Linked DNA regions of Homo sapiens: all the other regions are reported to be linked to region 1. Evidence: microRNA targets listed by miRTarBase, many of them from high-throughput screens and not tested one by one. Region 1 holds a microRNA gene; each other region holds the end of a gene's coding sequence.
Evidence for each region. The annotated mature microRNA hsa-miR-21-5p reads UAGCUUAUCAGACUGAUGUUGA and lies in region 1 at 2,811-2,832, opposite strand. An mRNA with a match to its seed (bases 2 to 7 or 8) in the 3' UTR can be bound and repressed. Matches are read on the target gene's strand: a 7mer-m8 pairs with bases 2 to 8, a 7mer-A1 pairs with bases 2 to 7 and ends in A, and an 8mer does both.

Region 1 (4,170 bases):
CTCTCAAAAAAAAAAAAAAAAAAAAAAAAAAGCTGGGGTGGTGGAGGTGGATAACTTTTATTGCTGTACTTTTACTGAACTCTTTTTTGTTTGTTTGTTTTGAGACGGAGTTTCACTCTTGTTGCCCAGGCTGGAGTGCAATGGCAAGATCTCGGCTCACTGCAACCTCTGCCTCCTGGGTTCAAGCGATTCCTGCCTCAGCCTCCCGAGTAGCTGGGATTACAGGCATGTGCCACCGTGCCTGCTACATTTTTGTATTTTTAGTAGAGATGTGATTTCGCCATGTTGGTTAGGCTGGTCTCGAACTCAGGTGATCTGCCCACCTTGGCCTCCCAAAGTGCTGGGATTACAGGCGTGAGCCACCATGCCCGGCCCTATTTATTGAACTCTTGGCCTAAAAGGGATCCTCCTGCCTTGGCCTCCCAAAGTATTAGGATTATAAGCATGAGCCACTGCACCCAGCCTATTTCAGTACTTTACATGTTACCAGATTTATTCCTTAGGTAAACTGTCCTTCTATCTCTTTTATTTTTATAGATGAAAGAAACTGAGGCTCTTTTAAACTTTCTCAGGTCACAAACAATGTAGAAGAAACCCGAACCGTCATTAACATAGACTATTACACATGGGGGAAAATGGGTTTTAAAGTAATATATATGGAAAGGCTTTTTGACACTGAAAGGTTGGGAATCTCTGTGATCTTCTTACACATGGGTCAGGCTAAACAATTTGCTTCAGGGTACATGAGCGCAACTGGTTATTTAGCTAGTGCATGATCCATACTCAAATGAGTCATTATTGAATGACTGGTGAAATGACAAAAAGCCTCATGTTCTACTAAGGCTGTGGATAGCACAGAGCACACTGGGGGCAGAGGCTGAGCGTGTTTGTGTAGGAGCACTCAATACTGCATATGTTTCAATAATTAACTAGTGTATTTAAGAAACTTCATTCTACGTGGGCATGGTGGCTCACGTCTGTGAACCCAGAACTTTGGGAGACCGAGGCAGGTGGATCACCTCAGGTCAGGAGTTCGAGACCAGCCTGACCAACATGGCCAAACCCCGTCTCTACTAAAAATACAAAAACTAGCCTGGTGTGGTGGTGGGCGCCTGGAATCCCAACTACTCCAGAGGCTGAGGCAGGACAATCGCTTGAACCTGGGAGGCGGAAGTGGCAGTGAGCCGAGATTGTACCATTGCACTCTAGCCTGGGCGACGGAGCAAGACTCTGTCTCAAAAAAAAAAAAAAAAAAAAAAAAAGTAACTTCATTCTAGCATTCGTAGGGAATGGAGAGGTGGCCACTATCCAAATGAAACTAAAAACCTTTTTCTTCCCAGACTCATACTCCAGATTATGCACACAGAGAATACAGAAAACTATGGGAAAACTGGACATTGCACATTTTCATATGACATCATCTGTTATTTTTTTTGTCTTGCTCTGTCACCCAGGCTGGAGTGCAGTGGCGCCATCTCGGCTCACTGCAAACTCTGCTTCCTGCGTTCAAGGGATTCTCCTGCCTCAGCCTCCTGAATAGCTGGGATTACAGGCGTGCACCACCACGCCCGGCTAATTTTTTATATTTTTAGTAGAGATGGGGTTTCGCCATGTTGGCCAGGCTGGTCTCAAACTCCTGACCTCAGGTGATCTGCCCGCCTTGGCCTCCCAAAGTGCTGGGATTACAGGTGTGAGCCACCGCGCCCGGCCGACATTGTCTGTTTTAAGGGAGGTATTCCTCAGCTCTTCGGTGATAAACTGCTGATGTATTGCACTGCCTGACAGTCACCAAGTTGGAACATGATAAATACTGCAGATGTGTAAGGCACAAAATGAGACTTATACAAAGTAGAGATGGAATCGCAAGAATTCCCAGGCCCTCTTTTTATTTACAGTGATACCAAACCATCCACTTGCAAATTCTTTGGTCTCCCATCAGCTGGAATTAAGTAGGTACTGTGTATCTTTGAGATCATGTATTTGTCTCCACTTTGGTGGATACAAGAAAGGAAGGCACGAACAGCTGAAAAAGAAGGGTATCACACCGCTCCAGCTGGAATCCAGCAGGAACCTCTGAGCATGCCACAGCTGAACACTTAAAAGAGGAAAGAAGGACAGCTGCTCTTCATTTATTTTGAAAGCAAATTCATTTGAAAGTGCATAAATGGTCATCATAAGTCAAACGTATCAATTAGACCTTCAACCTAGGAAACAAAATTTTTTTTTTCTATTTAATAATACACCACACTGAAATTATTTGCCAATGAATCCCAAAGATTTGGTACAAATAGTACAATTCGTATTTGCTTTCCTCTTTCCTTTCTTCAGACAAACACCAAATAAAATGCAGGTGAAAGAGATGAACCACGACTAGAGGCTGACTTAGAAATTTATGCTGACTCGATCTAAAAAAAATTATGTTGGTTAATGTTAATCTATCTAAAATAGAGCATTTTGGGAATGCTTTTCAAAGAAGGTCAAGTAACAGTCATACAGCTAGAAAAGTCCCTGAAAAAAAGAATTGTTAAGAAGTATAATAACCTTTTCAAAACCCACAATGCAGCTTAGTTTTCCTTTATTTATTTGTGGTCATGAAGACTATCCCCATTTCTCCATAAAATCCTCCCTCCATACTGCTGCATTATGGCACAAAAGACTCTAAGTGCCACCAGACAGAAGGACCAGAGTTTCTGATTATAAACAATGATGCTGGGTAATGTTTAAATGAGAACATTGGATATGGATGGTCAGATGAAAGATACCAAAATGTCAGACAGCCCATCGACTGGTGTTGCCATGAGATTCAACAGTCAACATCAGTCTGATAAGCTACCCGACAAGGTGGTACAGCCATGGAGATGTCACGATGGTAGGCAAAACAAGCAGACAGTCAGGCAGGATTTGATAAAAAAACAAAAACAAAAACAAACCAAAAAAACCCAGGCATTTCTGGCCTGTTAAGATCGAACCCCAATTCTATTCTATTCTGACATAATGCTCATAATGCTCCTAAAGGAAAAAAGTAAAATTGTTTATTTTCCTCCCAAGCAAAACAAAATGAACAAGTTCAATCAAAAACATCCCAATGGAAAAAAATCACACTAAGAATAAAACACTTACAGAACGGCAAGAAAACTGGGTTAACATATAAATTTGTGTCTGTTGAAACCAGAGTACATGCTAGAAAACATTAACACAGATACGACAGAGTGTGGTTTTTTTTTAGAAATGGGTAATTTCTCTCTCCAGTATCCTTTCACTTGTATGAGATATTTCTCCTCTCCTGTTTTCACAAACCAAGAAATCCCCAGGTAGGCCAATCCCAGAGGTGCCATTTAGCAGTATGCAGCAGCCCAGTTTCAGCATAACAAAACATGCCTTGGTAGTGGCTCTCTCATGCAAATAAAAGAAAGCTTAAGAAATTCTTGTTGTAGGTGGATTAGGCAAGGCTGCCATTCAGCTGGTATAAGCTAAAAGTAAAAAATCAAAACGCTCAAGAAAACGGACACAATTTTGGAATGATTAAAGATGTCTTTATAAAGTTTTTTTCAAGACTTCATTCTAAATACACAGAATAAAAAATGGTGTCAGCTCACTTGTAAGACACCAACCAGATTTTCCTTATACTGTCTCAAAATTTAAAGATCAATTTCCCCAGAGGGTGTGCAATGCATCATAAAATGGCCCTTTTTTGAGGATGGGAGAGGAAGGGTTGGGCAGGATGGAATATTAAATTGTAACATGATAAACATGCAAGACTGTTATCCAATCTAGATAATTTATATACATTTTGATGACTTAGGAAAACAAAGCAATCATTTGTGACAAGCCTAAAAAGCTTGACATATTTAACATACTTAGGAACTTTTTTTGTGCGGTGGGAATTCTCTAATTGTATCATGTGGGCCTTTTGAAAGTAACAAACAGAAGGCCAGTCTGTTGCAAGTTTGCTGCTGAACATCACATTCCACCCTAAGAAAACACAAGGTGGATTGCATCGAGGGTGGATACCTTACCTTAGCACAGAAGGAAAAAGTATGTCAGTGCAAAGTATGGACTAAACTGCTTTCAGGAAAAAAGTTGTAAAAATTGATACAGGTTGGAAAAGGGAATTTTCCTTCCCGGCTTGGAGTCCTCCCAATTTAAGGCAGAACCCATCCACTCCAATTT
Region 2 (4,170 bases), not on the chromosome of region 1:
TCAGGAGTATGGCAATTTTTCTGTACGTGCTTTTCTAACAGTGCCTAGGAATGATGGTTTTTGCCTAAAAACAGGAAAGTTGGGTCGTCTTTATTGGAGCTTTCTTGCCATAGTCAAATAGAAAATAATCAGTGATGAGTATCATCTAACAAATTGATGGCTGACCTTAATGGAACATACTCAAAAGCTATCTTTTAAGCATTTGCTACTTTAATTAGAACAATTCATTCAGTATCACTGTTACAATATTCCATGACTCTTATTTTCAATATACTCAAAGCAACTTGAAAGTTTTATAAATTCTTTACTACAGTATTACCCGCTTATTCTGACACATAAAAGCTCTGTAGTTACACACTGTTAACATGTTAATGGCACATCTTACTAGCAACTTGCTGCACTTCTGTTATCAATAGAGGTTATGTGAAATACTTGGATAAGGACAGCCTGATTCTGTAGAAAATATCTGTTTTCTATAGAACAAAATATCTCCCAGTGGTAATTCAGCAAATTAGGTTCAAGAATGTGGGTAAAGGTAGGTGTAATGTTGGATTCTGAAGATCTACCTGCAGAAACAGATCTACCTACAGAAAGGCACGTAGAATTACTGTTAGGAAACCTAAGCAGCCTTAGCACCATGGTCAAGGTTTTAAAAACCTGATCTGTAACTGTTATGGGTTCATTTCCTAATGCAGAGAAACTGGCTAGTACACACAGTGTAGATTTAATGTGGGAAATATGACAACTTGGAAATGCTACCCAAAGATAAAAATCTAAAGACTATCAAAATTTGCTGTTTTCTAAAATCATACATTAGAATTTTGTGAAGTCTTCTGAATGACACAAAACCAGATGAAGGGAATCAGACCAAAATTACCTGAGTAAGGCCATTTCAAGTGCCTAACAAAGATGGTCAATATTAACTTGAAAAACCAGTGTTTCCTAAGTGTTCCTGATCAGAATTACCTGAGGTATTCCTTACAAATAAATTCTGAGGCCCATTCTCTTAAAGATTCTGGCTTAGCGGGTGGTACGTCTGGATTGAAGGCTAAGAATCTGTACCTTAAGCAATTCTAATTATCAGGCAAGTTTCGAAAATAGGGCTAAGCAGGAGTGTGTGTGTGTGTGTGTGCATGTGTCTGTCTGTGTGGAGGGGGGAGCGGGGAACAGGAACAAAGGAACAATACCAGCACTGTCTGGTCCCCTCATTCAAATACTGCCTGAAAAACTACCTGAGAATGAGAAACATTCAACTGAAGTTGAGGAATTATCTACAGAACACTGTTTATTTCAAGTCCAAAACACAAATTACTCATTTTTCTTAACAGACCGCATAATTTTTTCTGCATGAATATTTAGGGTTTCTCTATTCACAAGTACAGTTTATTACTAGACTTTAGGCTTGAATGATTCATATATATAGATATCAGTTTACTACAGAGGACATGTACTTTTAACATTTTTTGTTTAGAAAATATTTTACATAAAAACACAAAGCATTTACCAACACTCCACAACCAGTCTTCAGCAAAGATTTGGCTGAAGATAACTTTCTACAAAACACTCCAAGACTGAATAGAATGTAGTATTTTACATACTTTAGCTTATTGTTGCAGTTAAAAGCTCCCCCTTGTTTGATGGCTTCTGCATGTATCTACAAAGCAGAAGTCTTAACTGGTGACCTGTTAAATAACATTGCCTTTTTAAGTGAACTTGTCCCCAGCCCGGAACCTAAGTAGTCATAATGAAATAAAGTAATTGATATATGAGGGGCTTTTAGTAAGGGCTTTTTCAACCTAATAAAATAATAATTTAGTATCTATCAGTGCAATATTCTTTTACTGTTTTGTGTTCAATAACCACCTGGAGTGCTAATTGTCTAGTATAATCAGTTGGCATCAAAATAGAAAGTAAAAAGATGTACATTTAATATACCAATTCTTACCTGAATAATCTTGGATTTCTGGAGAATGTTCCACAAAGTGGAATTTCTTCCTAAAGTTATGCTGAATGTGGTACAATGTGTACAACTTGGTTAACCAGTGCCTGCTTTTCATTTCCAAGATTTTTCCTTATCTTGAATCAAATGCACAATCTTACAACTGTATCATAATGCACTGGCTTACAGTTCTGTATATAAAGTCCAACTCAAGCTTATTTTGGTTTATTGTACATGCTTTATTAAAATGGTACTTGTATTTACAGTATCTGCAGAAAGAGTCCCTTCCAAGGCCTCACACATTCAGACACATCCATACTGACACCCACTCCACAGCCCCATGCACCCACACCAGTGAGATGTGGAGGGTCAGACTCCTAAAATTAGGCAGCTGTTGGGGATAAGAGTTGATTTGTTTTTCAATTTTTTTGAAAACAGAAAAGCATGGGGGAATGCATTTGGCCATTACAATGCTAATTGAGTTTGTGTATATTACATATATGGCAGTTAACACTGTAATATTCCTTTTACATTCTATATACACAGAATGATATCAAGGTTTTATGGTCAACAGAATATTCCAACTTCAGTCTTAATGCTGCTTGTAGTGATTTCTGAATTCATTATAGGGGCTTTCCCTAAAAATAATTCAAGTCTATGTTAAGTGAAATAAGGCACAATTAATATTGATTTGATTTAGGGAAAGGGAAGGAAAGAGAAGGGATAAAAACTGGTTTCAAATGATCTTTCTGTTGGGGAACTAGCTCTGACTTAAACCCACCTGAAATTCCTTCTCCTAATTTCCAAAGATTTCTTTATAAAGATATTTTTCTTTTCCCTGACAAAGCCAAAAAGAAAAGTTTGGGAATTCACATTTTAATGTTTCAGTAGCCTGAACAACTCAAATTGATGTGTACCCCCACCTCCCCTGATCAGGTCGCCTCCCTCACCCATGTTAAAATAAAAACACAGTATGTGACACAGGAGTCCCTTGATGTTTCTTGAGGAGATCTGTACACTTGAGTAGCAAATACATATCTGGTTGTCTTCAATATATTTTAAAAAGAAAGAAAGAGAAAGAAGAAAGGAAAGAAGGAAAAAAGGAAGGAAAGAAGTAATATTGTGACTTTCTTGCTCTTTAAAAAAATCCCTGTCTCCTTCTTTTCAGGATGATGAAGCCCCACTAGACATTACAAACAACTGCAACAAATGAGTTTGGCAGCATAAATAATGTCTAGTTATTCAAATCTTCATAGTGAGATTAATTTATCTTGTACACAATTTGTTGAATGTTTTTCGCAGCAGGTGAATCAAACCCAAAGACTCCGGACAGTCTGTGAAAGGGAGTAAGAATTGCAGTTCTGAAGGCCCCTGACTTTGGTTGTTTACAAAGTTCAATCCTGTTTATTGTGATCCTTGGTATCTTCTTCATCTGTATATTCTGATGGTTCTTCTCCTGGTTTTAGGAGTCTGCCTACATAATCATATTTTTCTGAAAGATACATCAAAAGAAAATCAGTGGTGATCAAATTTGTTTCACTATTCCATTATACAGAGAAAAGGCATTTGTCTGTTTTAGAATCATATAAAATATGATTATTAGAATATTATCTAAATATTCTAAAATTGCTTCACCATGGCTGGTCTTTATACACATGTAAAGCCTGAACAAAAGAAAACAGGATTAGGGAACTTATAAGGCTTGGGAATTCTTTGCAAGAGGGTGTTCTGTACCAGTGATTCTTAGTTGGATACTGCATCAGAATCACTTGGAGATCTTTTTTAAAAATGAGTAAGTCCAGGACCCATCTCAGTACCCAGCTAAACCAGAACAGCTGTTCCAAGGGACCCAGGGGTCAGATAAACAGCTGGGACAGCATCACACAAGTGGTAAAAACTGATGTTATGAGGGCATAAGAAAGGGGAAAGATATTTTTTATCTACATTTCGAGTGTTAAGATCTGTAAAATCATTTTGGAATAAATTATAGTATTGAAATCAGTAATCAACTCAGTTTTAAATATAAGCCTGTATTTTTAAAAAACTAAACCTTAATGAAGAAGCTGACTGTAAGTATCACAATTTTTGAGGCTTAGAATTTGTAACAAGTCATTTTTTTAAATATTGATTTTCAAAATAATTATCACATGTAACAATCATATTTTTATTTAGCTATTTTTTGCAATTTCTTTTTTTGGACAAGTCTCACTATGTTGCCCAGGTTAGTCCTT
Region 3 (4,170 bases), not on the chromosome of region 1:
CATTCCACAATTTTTGTCCTAAAAAGGCTGTCGGGTTGATGATGAAGTCAAATGCACATTAGCTATCTTACTGCTTCTTTACCTCCCAAGCACTAGATTTTCAATGGACATTGTTAAGATCTTGACAAATCACAGTCATTTATGCTTCTAGAAAACACTTTTGATTTCTTGATGTTACATTAAAAATCCCTAAGGGCAGGTGTGTTACTGGGAGATCAGAGAGGTCAGATGAAATGGGACACATATCTCCTCACAAAACCCTTCCTCACATCGCTAGGAGGAACAAGGCGAGGGCTCTTCGTGTCACAGTGAGCCAGCTGCAGCACATCAGTGAGCGTGGGCAGCGGCGTGGTGTTGGTGGTCTCTGTGCGTGATGGTGACTCTTCTTTGTTTGCAGGTCAACGAAGTGACGGTGGAACAGCTGGTGCAGCAGTACCCCCACATCACCTTCAGCACCGTCCTGCAGGACTGCAAGAGGACCTTGGAGAGAGCCTATCAGATGGGCTGGACCCCCAACATGTCTGCCGCCTCCTCCTAGCGCTCCTGCCTCGCCTAGTCCACTGGGATCATTCAGCAGAGCAGAGGAGAATTGTACATTTGGGGAGCTGATCTCTCGGAAGGGTTTTAACTGTCACCTGTCTGTGTGTGTTCAAGTATGTGTATTTGTGTCTTGTTTGCATACTGCATACCAAAAGTGCAGTTGTCATTTGTTCCCAAGTGAGCTGGCTTTTTTTCTTAGAAATTAAAGATTATGAAAGCCACAAACTTTTTAGTTTTTAACTTCAAAGGCTTCTTTCTCTTTAAAAAAAAATTATTTTTAATATAGAGTCAAAAAATTGGATGTATTATTTTGAGCTTCTAATTGCTGCCACTTGGAGATGTCCAAGTAAGAAGGCCTTCTTTTTACATGGGATGAATTGTGCACTTCTACTGATGATGACTACAGCAGAAGTGATGTTATACGTACAGGCACTTACACTCTCTCACATATTCACACGTGTGCACATCTACACCAGGGCTCTGATCTACTCTAGATCGTTTCCTGACAGAGAAGCCTTCTTCCAGGCCACTAAGGTAGCATGTTATCCACTGTGGCACTGCCTAACTCCGTGTATCCTCGGGTGGCCAACTTGCTATCTGGTGGGTGACTTGGGGACTAGAAAGAATAAAGCCTTTTCTAAATTTGTTATATAGAGGCAACAGTCTGAACTCTCCTGGCCAGCTCACGAAAGTTAATTATACATTATTCTACAAATGCATTCTGTTGAGCACTAAATATTTTAGTTGGTTTTATGTTAACATTGTGTTAGCTTTTATTTCCTGGATAGTAACTGGTCAGGATATATTTTAATGATATTTGAAACTAATCTTAGCATTGAAGCCACCAATGTAATTAATGGTGTGCAGTTATTTTAAAAACTACAGATCATTTCATTATTTTCTTAATTTTGGTAATTATTAAAGTCTATTTCTGAGATACGAGAGGGTAGTCACATTAATAGAAGATTCATGAGTGAGATATAAGTAGACAATCTTTCTACTGTTGTTGCTCTTTTTGCTTTGCTTTGGGTTCTTGAACAGGTTTTTTGGATATATGCATGTTGTCATTTTGGACTAGTTCTCATGCTACTGCAAAGATCTATTGCTAGCTAATATATGAGTTAAGAAAGAAAATTAGAAAATCTGTTCATTGAAATTCTGTTTACACTTGTCAGAAATAAGCATTTCTTTGTTTAATTAAGGATTGCCAGCTTCAGTTAAGACAAGACCTATCAGTAAATGAATATATGTTTTGATTTAACACATCTTTACAATTAATTCATAATAGGGACTCAGGCTCAAATAACTGTTCCTGTGTCTAGATTTATAATGAGGACATCAGGGAGCCTTTTTAAGCTAAAGAGTGATTATCTTTCACAGTAGAACTAGAAACAAAACCCTAACTTGTGAAGTTGCTATTTATTTTTCCCTGAGTGAATATAACTGTTATTTGGTCTTTAACAGATATACTGAGGTTTGAGTTTCACTTTCTTTAAGTCTCACATTGCTAACATGACATTAGCTGTAAGAAACAAGATAGCTTTACATTTGAATGCCATTTACTGATTTCTAATGATTCTCTTTTTTTGTAAACAACTGTTTCCTTTGATTATGTCAACATGTTTCTGATGTGGCATTTTTGTTTTAATCCCAATCGGTTAGGAAAATCTAGTCAGTAAGCGCCATGAGTATTCTTCCCATAACTAAATGGGTTTCTAATTTAATTTGAAGGGAATAAAATTTGTGTAAGAAAAAAGCTGTTTAACATTAATAAACTATATTTCTTCTTACACATTGAACTGTATCATTTTCATATCCACTTCCCCACCACTGAAATATCTTATTTCACAATATTTTAACTGATTTTTAATCCAAAACTAATTTATAAGACAGTATGTATAGTAATAGTAGCTTGAGTGAATATGCAAAAGTTTAATTTTTATATATGTCATACTATATTTTAAATAGTTAAAAAAGACAAAAGAAGGGAGAGCCATCTATGATATAGATGGTACCATTTCAGTTCAAAGTTGTAATAACCTTTGGAGTGTTACAGTTTGGTTGTCAAATGGTTTCAGAATGTATAATTGATTTTTTTAAATGTTGCATTGTTTGAATCTAAAGTACAGCACTATAACATGCTTTAGCTTGGGGGGGTGGGGGTGGGGTGGGGACTTGCACTTATTCTCTAAAATGTTGACTAATCCAGAAAGCCTGATGCAACATAATCTGGAAAACTGCTTTGGTACATTTGTAGAAATCCGTAGAAATACCATATCCAGCCTCAAAGCATTAATCTCAAAAAAAAAAAAAAAAAAAAAAAAAAACAGCCAGAAAAAAGCATCACCTTGAGTGGTCCTGTGATGGTTGTTGAATGTGTTCTCATTAGATGCTTTGAAATGAGGCTTAAAATAATTTTTCTGGGCAATATAGAGTTTCTTTTTTTTGCTTAGAATGTCATAAATACATGTGAACACGTTTAATGCAGGGCTTTTTATTCTCTCCAAAATGTCAACAGTATTTTCAGAATAAAGACTATGAAATATATTGCTGTAGTGGAAAATTCTGGTCCTTTGTCTTTAATGTCTTTTTGAGTGGATAAAGAAAATTCACCCGGTTTGTAGTTTCTATATTTCCGTGAATCTTTGACCTTGCAGTGGGTTGCAATAAAAGAGAAACAAAACACTGTGTCTTTTGTTTTATTTTAGAGACAATAAATGACCTCCCCAATGCTGGTTGGGTATGATGCATGCAGTGGTCTGTGTATTTCTGTGTTTCACTACAGACTTATGTAGGTTTGACTAACCCAGAATAATAAACGAGACTGAGTTTAGGAGGTTCTAATTGGGCTGGTGATTATAGAGATAAGATTAAAATCTCAAGGATTTACATAAGTGTGTATTAGTCCATTCTCATGCTGCTAAAAGGGTATACCTGAGACTGGGTAATTTATAAAGGAAAGAGGTTTAATCGACTCACAGAAAACTTAAAATCGTGGCAGAAGGGAAAGCAAACAAGTCCTTTTTCACAAGGTGGCAGGAGAGTGAAGAATGAGAACCAAGCAAAGGGAGAAGCCCCTTGTAAAACCATCAGATATCATGAGAACTTCCTCACTATCACAAGAATGGCATGGGGGAAACCACCCCCATGATTCCATTGCCTCCCACTGGGTCCCTCCCACGACACGTGGGGATTATGGGAACTGCAGTTGAAGATGAGATTTGGATGAGGACACAGCCAAACCGTATCAAATGAGTTGTTAAAATCCCATTTCCTAAATAGTCATCATTTATATAGCCATATATTCTATTTTTCCAAAGTAAATAAATTCATAAAACATTTATTGAGTGACAAATACGTATAGGCACTGGAAATTTAAAGATAAATGAACTCACTCCCACTCTCAAGTTACTCACAGCCTAACAAGGGGACATTGTGGGGCACTAGCAATAACAGTGGAGTACAATAGATATAATGATGGGCATAATTATGGGGAGCGCATCTAGGGCCGAGCAGCAGCTTTGGGAAGGGAGAGCTCCACAGAGGAGGAGGATTTTCATGAAGGCTAGAGAAGTAGCGGGAATTTACCAGCTTTGCTTGGGGGAAGGAATGGAAGGCAACCTGGAAAAT
Region 4 (4,170 bases), not on the chromosome of region 1:
CACTCAGAAAGGTGCTTCCTTCCAAGACTTCTAGACTCTGGTAACAGTAGCCTCTGGCAATGTGTGGCTGTTTAACCAAAACTGAATAAAATTTAAAATTCAGTTCCTCAGTTGCATTAGCCATGTTTCCAGCGCTCAATAGCTGCATAAGGCTAGTGGCTACTGTATTGGATGACACAGACTTGGACCATTGATCATCGCAGAAAGTTCTTTTGGACTGTGCTGCTCTAAAGCATTTGTGTTTTGTCCTGGGAGTACCACTTTGTAGAGCAGGTGTTGACACAGTGCTGGCTGAAATGGCCCTTCCTCCCTTGCCCCATGGAGGCTGAAATGGCCCTTCCTCCCTTGCCCCATGTCTGATGGAATAAGGTGCTGAAATGCTTGCTGATGTTCTTGCAAATCAAGTGTTGGGAGTTCACTAGGTCTCATCTCTCTCTTCTGCCGACAGTGTTGGAGAGCTGGCTGGACTACACTGGGGAACTGGAGCCCCCTGAGCCGCTGGCCAGGCTTCCGCAGCTCAAGCATTGTATCAAGCAGCTGCTGATGGACCTGGGCAAGGTGCAGCAGATCGCCCTCTGCTGCTCAACATGAAACTGGGCACCCAAAACTCATGGGGGCACAATCCTGGGGCACCTGCAGGAGGAGCTTCGCATATTTAAATAAATAAACCTAGCATGCTGAATGCACGTGACACCGACTGACTTCAGGGATCTGGGCCAGGAGTGTGGTGGACATTGGACAAAGAGGCCATTTTGGCTGCGGGAGGACACTCTGATCTCGAAGCCTGCCATAAAGGTAGCAAATAGACTCTTGGGATTCCCCTCTTCTGTGCACATCGTTGAATGAAGAGAGTCTTTTTGCACAAACTTCACTTGAAATTGTGCCACTGATGATAAACGGAATGAGAGCCAAAAAAGTTTAGTTGGAGACAGTTGTAAATTCAATTTGGAGTTTATTTAATTGACTTTTCTATCACGTTGGGGCACATGCCAACTCCCTGGTTTCTTCCTGGCATGGTGTTTGGGCAGCAGGCATCATTTTCCTTTTCTAGCTTCATAGGAATATTGTGAGCTCACCATGCTGTGGAGGTTGGGAAAGAGCAGAGTCTTGGCTGCCCTGCTTTCTCCTTAGGACTCTTCACTTTTCTCACCACATCTCTTGCATGACTTCATGGTACTGGGGACAAGTTTGTATGCCTTCACCCCAGAGCTGGCTGGGTTATGGCTTTTGTAGCAGAGCCCATACAGCCTATGGAAGAACTAGAATCTCACTCACAGTAATAAGAATCTAGGAGGAATTCCAAACCGAAGCAGGCAGGGTCTGGAACCCAAAGGACAGCATTTTCTACCCACTTCTTAATATTGACAGCTTCCCCGTTCTATTTAATGTCCAAAAATGTTTCCCAAAATTTCAAACTCTTTCACTGTAAAGATTTGTTACAAAGAATGTGGTTTGGGGAATTACCTTATTTTATATTGTTGTAAACAAACTTCAAATTCTACATGTGCGACTTTTCTCCTTCCTGAAGGGTGTTTAGTAGTCAGCGTTTTCAGAATTGTTTTGTTACTATACTTTAACATTTTACATTTCCTGTTTGTATTATTTTGTGAGAGCAAGGTGATCATGCTGCTTAAGGTCCAGGTACAACCTATTTGTACCTTTTGAGACAATATTTGTGTTACTTTTGCAGGTTACGGTTCCACATGTAATTGCTATATTTTGTTTTGTTTTTCCTTACTAGGCAAAGTTAAAATGTTCCATGCTTTGAGGAGTGACCCATTTCACTACTTTGTTTTCTTATCACTAAAGGCAAAAATCAAAGCACAGTTGTCCATTAACACTTATAAGTTAATTATGGGTTTATGAGTCTGTAATGTTATATGCTGCAAACATTTACTATGTAAACGTGAAGTAGCCAATAATATCTCAATAGTAGTAACAGTATCTTTAGCGACCTTTGGAATAGTTAAGCACAGGTCATTGTGGACATGAATTCAGGCCTCTGTACTAAAATCTATTTCAGGGAATGTTCTGTCTAGTGATTTGCTCACCATTTGATATATAATGAATTATAGGACAAGTATAAGCTGATCTGCTATAGCTGTCCATCAGAGAGAATACACGTGGCTATAACATCTATAACAAAACGACGATTCCTCTACAAGAGGCTGTTTCTCACTGCTAACGTTGGTGTTTCTGGCGTGGGAAGAAATGCACAGGCGTGCATGGCATGCACGTTCAGACAGCTGCATTGTAAGAGTTCTGTCATGCAGTCTGAAAAGGGAAGAAACAGGATGGCTTTCTGTAGCCACACCTGTGAGGCGTGATGATTGTTGTATTATTAGATTACTGATTTTTCTTTTCTGAAAATACATTTGAGTTTTAATCACATCTGTGGAAGCTGTAACTTTTAAGGTAGTCAATTTCATGTCTTGTTCAACGATGTAAGCAGAAACTGAATTGCCCTAATTTTGCCAACTGGCCATTATTGGGATTATTGTTTAAATTTTTGGTAAAGGAAGTAATCTCCTTTCATTCATTGTGACTTTTGTTCTTAGGGAAGCAGAGAAGACTCCCCAAGTTCTTATAACCTCATTGTGCTTCCCTAATTTAAAGCCATGTTGAGGGGCTCCATTCCCAATTCCTGGGTCAAGGTGAATTAACCCTATGTTGGAGCACTGGAAACCGTTATTTGCAAACATTGCTGTTACCATTTAGAAATATGTGCACTATCAGCTGGGTGCAGTGGCTCACGTCTGTAATCCCAGCACTTTGGGAGGCCGAGGCAGGTGGATCACCTGAGGTCAGGAGTTCGAGACCAGCCTGGCCAACAGGGTGAAACCCCGTCTCTACTAAAAGTACAAAAATTAGCTGGGCGTGGTGGCGGACGCCTGTAATCTCAGCTACTTGGGAGGCTGAAGCAGGAGAGGTGCTGGAACCTGGGAGGCGGAGGTTGAAGTGAGCCGAGATTGCGCTATTGCACTCCAGCTCGGGCGACAACTGCAAGACTCCATCTCAAAAAAATAAAAATAAAAGAAAAGAAAGAAATATGTGCACTACCTAAGTTTTGTCTTTAGAAAAACTATCCACCTATAAAAAATTACCTTGACAAAAATAGTTCCGGTTTGACTAATCATTTTGTTTCTTTAAGTGGTAAGTGTATGCAAGGTGGATCCTTGATGAGCCAACATTGCACTGTGGATACATATCTATGTTTACGCGCTATTAGAACAGAAGGCGCTGTATATAGAAATGTTGCTTTGAAGCAATATTTGCAAAACACGCAGACTTCTGTATCTGTATTTGGAAAAAATAAAACAGGTTCTTGTTGCTATGTTTCAGTTACGTATTGTTGAGTTACAGTCATGCATCATATAACGTTTCTGTCAACCATGGACCCCATATACAGGGTGGTCCCATAAGATTATAATGGAGCTGAAAAATTCCCATCACCTAGTGATGTCCTGATGGTCCTACTGCATAGGCCTAGGCTAATGCGTGGATTTGTCTTAGTGTTTAACAAAAATCTAAAAAGTAAAATATATATAAAAAATTTAAACTAGAAAAAAACTCATAGAATAAGGATATAAAGAAAATATATTTGTATAGTTGTACCATGTGTGTAAACACAAAGTGTTATTACAGAAGTCAAAGTTAAAATTTAAAAGCTTACAAAGTATAAAAGTTGGTCAGGCAAGGTGCCTCAGATCTGTAATCCTAGCACTTAGGGAGGCTGAGGATGGAGACCCTGTCTCTAAATAAAAGGCTGGGTGCCGTCGCTCACGCTTGTAACCCCAGCACTTTGGGAGGCCAAGGCGGCCAGATCACCTGGGGTCAGGAGTTCAAGACCAGCCTGGCAAACATGGCAAAACCCCATCTCTACTAAGAATACAAAAATTAGCATGGTGGCGCATGCCTGTAGTCCCAGCTACTTGGGAGGCTGAGGCAGGAGAATTGCTTGAACCCAGGAGGAGGAGGTTGCAGTGAGTCGAGATCGTACCACTGCACTCTAGCCTGGGCAACAGAGTGAAACTGTCTCAACAAAACAAAAAACAAAAACAAAAAGTTATGGTGAACTAAGGCTAATTTATTATTGTAGAAAGAAAATTAAAAAAAATAAGTTTAGTAGTTCGTGACCAGCCTGGGCAACATGGTGAAACCCCATCTCTA
Region 5 (4,170 bases), not on the chromosome of region 1:
TTCTTTAGAGTAGAAGGTATATTTTCCCTTTCTTCACATGTTTACCTTTTTAGGAATTTTTGTTAACATTGAAGTAATTATTAAATATCAGGGATGCCTACAAAAAAATAATGATCAGGCCGGGTGCAGTGGCTCACACCTGTAATCCCAGCACTTTGGGAGGCCAAGGTAGGCAGATCACCTGAGGTCAGGAGTTCAAGACCAGCCTGGCCAACATGGTGAAACCTGTCTCTACTAAAAATAGAAAAATCAGCCAGGCTTGGTGGCAGATTCCTGTAATCCCAGCTACTCTGGAGCCTGAGGCAGGAGAATCGCTTGAACCCAGGAGGTAGAGGTTGCAGTGAGCTGAGATCGCGCCACTGCACTCCAGCGAGGGCGACAGAGCGAGACTCGATGTCAAAAAAAAAAAAAAATTTATGATCAAATCTTTTAGTGCCTAGTAAAATGATATAAGAAATGTGCCTGGAAATATTCTGCAGTTAAAATTCATAATATTTAATAAATATTCAATGTTTTGTGTTTTAATAAGTTCGTCAGACCTTAGAACTGAGGGAAATTTTGCCAACTTAAAATTCTAATTTCTGTCTCTCTGTACTTTAATTTTCAGCTCGAAGACGCGACGTCCATTTGTCGAAAGAACAGGAGAGCCGCCTACCCTCTCACTGGCTGAAAAGCAAAGGGGCCCACACCACCATGGCAGATGCCCTCTGGCGCCTTCGAGATTTGATGCTCCGGGACACCCTCAACATTCGCCAAGCATACAACCTAGAAAATGTTTAATCACATCATTACGTTTCTTTTATATAGAAGCATAAAGAGTTGTGGATCAGTAGCCATTTTAGTTACTGGGGGTGGGGGGAAGGAACAAAGGAGGATAATTTTTATTGCATTTTACTGTACATCACAAGGCCATTTTTATATACGGACACTTTTAATAAGCTATTTCAATTTGTTTGTTATATTAAGTTGACTTTATCAAATACACAAAGATTTTTTTGCATATGTTTCCTTCGTTTAAAACCAGTTTCATAATTGGTTGTATATGTAGACTTGGAGTTTTATCTTTTTACTTGTTGCCATGGAACTGAAACCATTAGAGGTTTTTGTCTTGGCTTGGGGTTTTTGTTTTCTTGGTTTTGGGTTTTTTTATATATATATATAAAAGAACAAAATGAAAAAAAACACACACACACAAGAGTTTACAGATTAGTTTAAATTGATAATGAAATGTGAAGTTTGTCCTAGTTTACATCTTAGAGAGGGGAGTATACTTGTGTTTGTTTCATGTGCCTGAATATCTTAAGCCACTTTCTGCAAAAGCTGTTTCTTACAGATGAAGTGCTTTCTTTGAAAGGTGGTTATTTAGGTTTTAGATGTTTAATAGACACAGCACATTTGCTCTATTAACTCAGAGGCTCACTACAGAAATATGTAATCAGTGCTGTGCATCTGTCTGCAGCTAATGTACCTCCTGGACACCAGGAGGGGAAAAAGCACTTTTTCAATTGTGCTGAGTTAGACATCTGTGAGTTAGACTATGGTGTCAGTGATTTTTGCAGAACACGTGCACAACCCTGAGGTATGTTTAATCTAGGCAGGTACGTTTAAGGATATTTTGATCTATTTATAATGAATTCACAATTTATGCCTATAAATTTCAGATGATTTAAAATTTTAAACCTGTTACATTGAAAAACATTGAAGTTCGTCTTGAAGAAAGCATTAAGGTATGCATGGAGGTGATTTATTTTTAAACATAACACCTAACCTAACATGGGTAAGAGAGTATGGAACTAGATATGAGCTGTATAAGAAGCATAATTGTGAACAAGTAGATTGATTGCCTTCATATACAAGTATGTTTTAGTATTCCTTATTTCCTTATTATCAGATGTATTTTTTCTTTTAAGTTTCAATGTTGTTATAATTCTCAACCAGAAATTTAATACTTTCTAAAATATTTTTTAAATTTAGCTTGTGCTTTTGAATTACAGGAGAAGGGAATCATAATTTAATAAAACGCTTACTAGAAAGACCATTACAGATCCCAAACACTTGGGTTTGGTGACCCTGTCTTTCTTATATGACCCTACAATAAACATTTGAAGGCAGCATAGGATGGCAGACAGTAGGAACATTGTTTCACTTGGCGGCATGTTTTTGAAACCTGCTTTATAGTAACTGGGTGATTGCCATTGTGGTAGAGCTTCCACTGCTGTTTATAATCTGAGAGAGTTAATCTCAGAGGATGCTTTTTTCCTTTTAATCTGCTATGAATCAGTACCCAGATGTTTAATTACTGTACTTATTAAATCATGAGGGCAAAAGAGTGTAGAATGGAAAAAAGTCTCTTGTATCTAGATACTTTAAATATGGGAGGCCCTTTAACTTAATTGCCTTTAGTCAACCACTGGATTTGAATTTGCATCAAGTATTTTAAATAATATTGAATTTAAAAAAATGTATTGCAGTAGTGTGTCAGTACCTTATTGTTAAAGTGAGTCAGATAAATCTTCAATTCCTGGCTATTTGGGCAATTGAATCATCATGGACTGTATAATGCAATCAGATTATTTTGTTTCTAGACATCCTTGAATTACACCAAAGAACATGAAATTTAGTTGTGGTTAAATTATTTATTTATTTCATGCATTCATTTTATTTCCCTTAAGGTCTGGATGAGACTTCTTTGGGGAGCCTCTAAAAAAATTTTTCACTGGGGGCCACGTGGGTCATTAGAAGCCAGAGCTCTCCTCCAGGCTCCTTCCCAGTGCCTAGAGGTGCTATAGGAAACATAGATCCAGCCAGGGGCTTCCCTAAAGCAGTGCAGCACCGGCCCAGGGCATCACTAGACAGGCCCTAATTAAGTTTTTTTTAAAAAGCCTGTGTATTTATTTTAGAATCATGTTTTTCTGTATATTAACTTGGGGGATATCGTTAATATTTAGGATATAAGATTTGAGGTCAGCCATCTTCAAAAAAGAAAAAAAAATTGACTCAAGAAAGTACAAGTAAACTATACACCTTTTTTTCATAAGTTTTAGGAACTGTAGTAATGTGGCTTAGAAAGTATAATGGCCTAAATGTTTTCAAAATGTAAGTTCCTGTGGAGAAGAATTGTTTATATTGCAAACGGGGGGACTGAGGGGAACCTGTAGGTTTAAAACAGTATGTTTGTCAGCCAACTGATTTAAAAGGCCTTTAACTGTTTTGGTTGTTGTTTTTTTTTTAAGCCACTCTCCCCTTCCTATGAGGAAGAATTGAGAGGGGCACCTATTTCTGTAAAATCCCCAAATTGGTGTTGATGATTTTGAGCTTGAATGTTTTCATACCTGATTAAAACTTGGTTTATTCTAATTTCTGTATCATATCATCTGAGGTTTACGTGGTAACTAGTCTTATAACATGTATGTATCTTTTTTTTGTTGTTCATCTAAAGCTTTTTAATCCAAATAAATACAGAGTTTGCAAAGTGATTTGGATTAACCAGGTTTGGTTGTTCTGTTAAAGTGGTGTCAGATGTTTCAAGCAGATTTAACTCCTGCAAGCCCTGATTTCATGCTGACAAGGTTGTATGTGACTGCCAATTTAAGAGAACAAAGCTCCACAGATGGAGATGAAAGTCAGTGTCCAGACCTCTGGTTCAGGGCTCGGGCTGCATTAACACAGAGCCAAATGTAGTCAGACTGCAGACTGAAGTGCCCCACGCCACGCCTCAGGCTGGCAGTCAAGGAATTCCTACATGTCCTCAGCATGGGCAGAAATGCAGGTTGAAATTAAAATTGGAGAATTACTGAGGGCGGAAAGTGAGGAAAGCATGTAAGCAGTATAGCCCACTTCAAATAGCTTGTCTGTGGCCAGAAGAAACAGGTGGCCCAGGTGTCTTTAACATCTTTATAAACTCTTAAAACATGACCATGCTTTTAATAGAAAGTGTTGGTAAAAGCAACCAACTGTTTTCCTCTAATATCACTTTGCAAATCCCTGTGGTTCTGTTCTCCTGAATTTAGGATAGTACCGGCATCTGTGCCCCTGAGCATATTTTGAACAATCATTGATGTATAGCTAGACATCCCATCTGAACACTGAGCAAACAAATATTGCTATTATTCTGTTCCTTTTTTTTTTTTCTTTTGAGACGGAACCTCACTCTGTCACCCAGGCTGGAGT
Region 6 (4,170 bases), not on the chromosome of region 1:
TATGAGTTCCAGACTCTAGACTAATCATCCTACACTGAATGAAATGACTTATCATACTTTGAAGTGAAAACCTTCTGAGATTCCATTTCTCTTCTGTCTTTAAAGAACTGCCTGTTTCTAAACATCAGATATCAAGCGGAAGCTCATGCCTGCTGACTCTACTCTTCTCTAAGAGGAACTGCAGTTGTCAGTTCCCATACCATCCCCTCTTCTCTCTCTTTTCACCTTTTCAAAGCAGAAGGCAGAGCAGTGGGAAGCCTGGTAAATCACAGATTCGGTGTGAGGCTTACTGGTACTGCTGTGACTCCCTAGTGTGGAGGATTTGGCCTTATTGGATGTTGGTGCACTTGCCTCTGCTGACAGTGTGGCTGGTGTCTCCCCTGACTGCAGATGGATTTGTGTTCCCTGCAGCAGTTTATACTCATCTGCTTACATACTGATTCAGAAACAAAGATTGAACCACGCCCACAGATGTCATGGGTATTCTTTGCAATGTTAGTATATTCTTTTTCTTAATATCATTTCCATGTATCTTTATTCTTCTCAGATAAAAGTTAGAGCCGCATGTCCTGGAGGTGACTGCAGGTTGTTGGATTTGGAGTATCGGCCGTGTCTCACCACATCCTGGCTCCAGTGTGGATGCAGAGAGAGTGTGACAGAGGATCTGCCTGTGAACCACCTGGGATTAGTCAAGTCCCAAGGTGCCCAGAGTGGGACTAGTTCTTCACAGTGTGGCAGCTGCACTAATCTGTTTGTGAGGGAATATCCATTCCCTCACTCTACTCTCCTCACTATCGGAAATTCATTTTGATTCAGAATAAAAACCAAATGTATAGAGCTTTGGGTGTAGGATATGAAATTGTACTTAGATTTAAGAAAAAGAGAAAATCAGATGTATTTATTTGACTTCATTCCGTATTTGAAAGCACATTTTAATTTTTATTTGCCTTGTTTTGTTTTAATTGAGTAGTGAGAGTTTTAGACCTTTGTCTTTAGTACACCCAAGGATCAACTGCTCCTGAAGCAAAGAGGTCAGGATGGAGTATGCAGAAGTTGGGTAGAGAGGTTAAGAAGAGGAGGAAGTGAGACGGGGAAGGGAGGAGCACCTTGCTTCACTATACAGTATTCCAAGCTCTCTGCTGTCCAGTAGGCTGCTTCTCTGAGGGTCACCTCAAAGGTATGCTATGCCGTGTGGCTCTTATGTGCCCAGGTGGTGTGGTCAGAGAGTGGATGGGCTTCCTCCCGCCCTGAGGCAAGCACCTCTTCTCTGTAGCTGGGATCAACCACAATTAATAGGAATCCTCAACATACTAAATAGCAGGCACTTGAAAATGGGTGTGTTTTCTTCCATTGTCGTCTTTTCTATTGAGGGTTGGGATTTGGGTGGGAGAGGAAAGCAAATTTTATTTTCTTGACTATAAATTTGTTATTCTTGGTATCATTTCATTTTTATAATTATACATTAGACATTGGCACTTGTGTAAAACTGTCCCTGCAGATTGAGCAGGAAGTAAAAACAAATGGAAATGCTTCGGATAGTGGCAGGGGTGGGGGTTGCTAAGGAAAGGGTGGGATGGGAGTGGGTAAAGAGTTTGGGAAGGTTATCTAACTGAATCACTACTGAGTTGAATCATGGCTATCATTAGCCACAGGTACTGCTGATTATAAGGCCAGTAAAATTTTAGTACCTGGAGGTTTGACTCTAATTTTTGCACTGATGGTGCCAAAGGGCCCTGAGTCAAAAGGATAGCCAAGGGTGGAGTGGAAAAAGATATGGTGAAGGCAGAACTGCTCACACCAGCTCCAGAAGCACGTCCTCTGACTTCACTGCCGCAGCTCTTTCCACACGGGGCCGTGATTGACCCTAAAAATTGCAGACCAGCACATACACTGGACACTGCAGGCAAGGTGTTGGTAACTGCCTGCTCTAGGATGAATAGTAGCGTTAGCAGCACCCTACAGAGGGTAAGTTTCAGAATTGTAATTTGAGAACTCCTTCAATTATATTGACTTTCTTTGGTTTTCCTTGTGCATTAGGTATATATTTTTTGAAGTATTTTTGCCAACTAAAATGAAGTCTGTAAATTCTGTTAATAAACAAGGAGTTCATCCGTTGCTCACATCTTTCATTGGTGCCCTCTGAACTCTGTGGGTTGCTAGGATGTAATTTTAATGCTTCCCTGCAGTCCAAAGATGATTTTTTCACCACAAATGGTAAGGGATGCCCACCTACTTTTATAAACACCACTGCAACTTAACAAGTTTATTTATCTATGTCCAGATTTCTGTTTCTGTCCTAAATTGATCTGTGTTTTTAGGTGGATCAACTTGGATCTTTAGACCTCATCTATAAATTGAAATTATATTTTTAGTCATAAGCCAAGTACAATCTAACTCAGAATGGGATTAAAAATTTTAGAAGCAGAAGCTAATATATAAATGAAGTTTGGGATTTGGAACTTTCTGTATCTCTTAGGAGGAACAAGTAAAAACCAAATGGTTACATTGTGCTGCTAGAAATAATGTCATTCTCAATTAAAAGGGTTACACCTGTAGCCACTTGACACTAACACCATCGAGGGCAATTAATCAGGAGAAAAGTAAATATAAAAACTTTGCTCTTAACGTCACACACTACAGGGTAATTATGTAATTCTCTAGCACTCAATTAAGAAGCTTGTAGGTTAGCAAAATTTCAGTTTCTCTAGTTCAGCCAGTGTCTTGTCCTTAGTAATTATTTGCTTTCCCTGCAGTTCAATTTCTCCTTGGAACTCTAACAGGACTAACTGGAAAAATACTTTGACCATAGCTCTAGTACTTCCAAATAAATTCATATCTAGATTTTCAAACAAAGCCCCAAGATGAAGTCTAATTCTGAAAATATCTCACAATTTTTGAATGTTCTTTTTATCTTACCGACCTAACTTCTCTTTTCCCTCCCAACTTGGCCTCCCACACGTTCCATTTCATTTTGGCCATTATAGTCACATCCGTTTGACTTTGGTTGTGACATCTTCCTTTCAGGATGATGGAATTAGATGCAGTCTGTCTTTGAGTGAGACTGGTCACCATCAGAGGAGTTTTTTCTAAGTGACGTGACTAGAAGTTGAAATCTACTTCCCTGCTAAAGGGCACAGGGGTGGTGTACAAAGAAAGCTACCTTCCCAGAGCAAGCAGGCTGCATTTTAGCTATGGAAGTGACCTGCTGTGACACTGTGCTCTCTTCTGTGGGCTTAATGGTTCCTTTGCTATGAAGTGGCAAATTACATGTAGAGTGTCTCCTTCCTTTTCAGAGAACAGTTAATCAAGGCAAATCAGCAAGCCCCCAAAGTGCTGTAATTTAACATCATGATTACCACCTTCGAAGCTATATATTTTGCATACTTTAAAATCACCTAACTTGGACTGCTTGAATTACATTGGCTTTTAGAACCGAAATTGTAACTATGTATTGTATTTCATGGGAGGTATATTTTATGAGCTTTTTGGCTTTCTTTTTTCCCACAGCAACTGCCAATGAAGGATGAATCCCCTTTTTAAAAAGTTGTTGTTGTTGTTGTTTATTTGATTTTGAGTTAGGAGGGATAATAGAGAAGTCCATTTAAAAATTATTTTTAGAAGCTAAAGAAAGTAATTATGCTTCCTGTGAATTGTCTTTTACTGGCATCTTTGTTTTCCTCTTTGATGTTAGTAAATTTGGTGTAATACGTGGGGCTTCCATATTTCAAAGTGGAAGCTTTCTTCTCTGAAGTCGATATATGGTTTTGAATTACTAGAGCTTTGGTCAGTATTTCCTTCCCTATATGTCACAGAGGGCACCACTGAGAACTGCGTGCATAGGACCTCAAAATACAAAATTAGCAGGGCCTCACAGTCAGCTTCCTCATGGCTAGTTTTTCCCCCTTATATTACAATTTTTGTTTTATAAGTCATTTTTTTCCTGATATTTCCACCACTTTTCAGAGTCATCTACAAAATTTTTCTTTCCTCAAGAAAAGAGTTCCTTTTGCCTTATTCCTTATGCCTTCCCCACTGGTATTGAGGGTTTTGATAATAAATTGGTAGGAAAAAAAAGTACCTCCTAGAAGGAAGCCTTCCCCACCATTTCCAGGTGCCAACTGCTAAGCAGATATATTCCAAAAATGGTAACTGTCATGTGCACACTGTTGG

Region 2: miRTarBase lists PGRMC2 as a target of hsa-miR-21-5p. Seed matches in the 3' UTR shown: 7mer-m8 at 2,152-2,158 and 8mer at 1,601-1,608.
Region 3: the mRNA of FBXL17 is a reported target of hsa-miR-21-5p. Seed matches in the 3' UTR shown: 7mer-A1 at 1,893-1,899.
Region 4: miRTarBase lists PHF20 as a target of hsa-miR-21-5p. Seed matches in the 3' UTR shown: 7mer-m8 at 2,083-2,089.
Region 5: miRTarBase lists PBRM1 as a target of hsa-miR-21-5p. Seed matches in the 3' UTR shown: 8mer at 935-942.
Region 6: the mRNA of ARHGEF12 is a reported target of hsa-miR-21-5p. The part of its 3' UTR that is shown has no 7-base or 8-base seed match.

Annotation. Positions count from the first base shown.
Region 1 is chr17:59,839,935-59,844,104 of GRCh38, reverse strand. MIR21 (microRNA 21) reads right to left here and starts at 2,839; the gene lies at 2,768-2,839. It overlaps VMP1 (vacuole membrane protein 1), which reads right to left. Exons shown (of 12, transcript NM_030938.5): 12 at 1,850-4,170. RefSeq lists a silencer at 1,584-1,778 and an enhancer at 3,064-3,793.
Region 2 is chr4:128,267,983-128,272,152 of GRCh38, forward strand. It overlaps PGRMC2 (progesterone receptor membrane component 2), which reads right to left. Exons shown (of 3, transcript NM_006320.6): 3 at 1,260-3,431. The coding sequence ends at 3,334. Among named protein-coding and RNA genes, the nearest start is that of PGRMC2, 18 kb to the right of the region's middle.
Region 3 is chr5:107,858,088-107,862,257 of GRCh38, reverse strand. FBXL17 (F-box and leucine rich repeat protein 17) reads left to right here. Exons shown (of 9, transcript NM_001163315.3): 9 at 398-3,223. The coding sequence ends at 538. Among named protein-coding and RNA genes, the nearest start is that of EFNA5, 190 kb to the right of the region's middle.
Region 4 is chr20:35,947,037-35,951,206 of GRCh38, forward strand. PHF20 (PHD finger protein 20) reads left to right here. Exons shown (of 18, transcript NM_016436.5): 18 at 449-3,334. The coding sequence ends at 591. Among named protein-coding and RNA genes, the nearest start is that of SCAND1, 5.4 kb to the right of the region's middle.
Region 5 is chr3:52,544,673-52,548,842 of GRCh38, reverse strand. It overlaps PBRM1 (polybromo 1), which reads left to right. Exons shown (of 32, transcript NM_001405607.1): 32 at 608-3,476. The coding sequence ends at 780. Among named protein-coding and RNA genes, the nearest start is that of UQCC5, 10 kb to the right of the region's middle.
Region 6 is chr11:120,484,520-120,488,689 of GRCh38, forward strand. It overlaps ARHGEF12 (Rho guanine nucleotide exchange factor 12), which reads left to right. Exons shown (of 41, transcript NM_015313.3): 41 at 548-4,170. The coding sequence ends at 558. Among named protein-coding and RNA genes, the nearest start is that of GRIK4, 25 kb to the right of the region's middle. RefSeq lists an enhancer at 1,017-1,161 and a cis regulatory region at 1,089.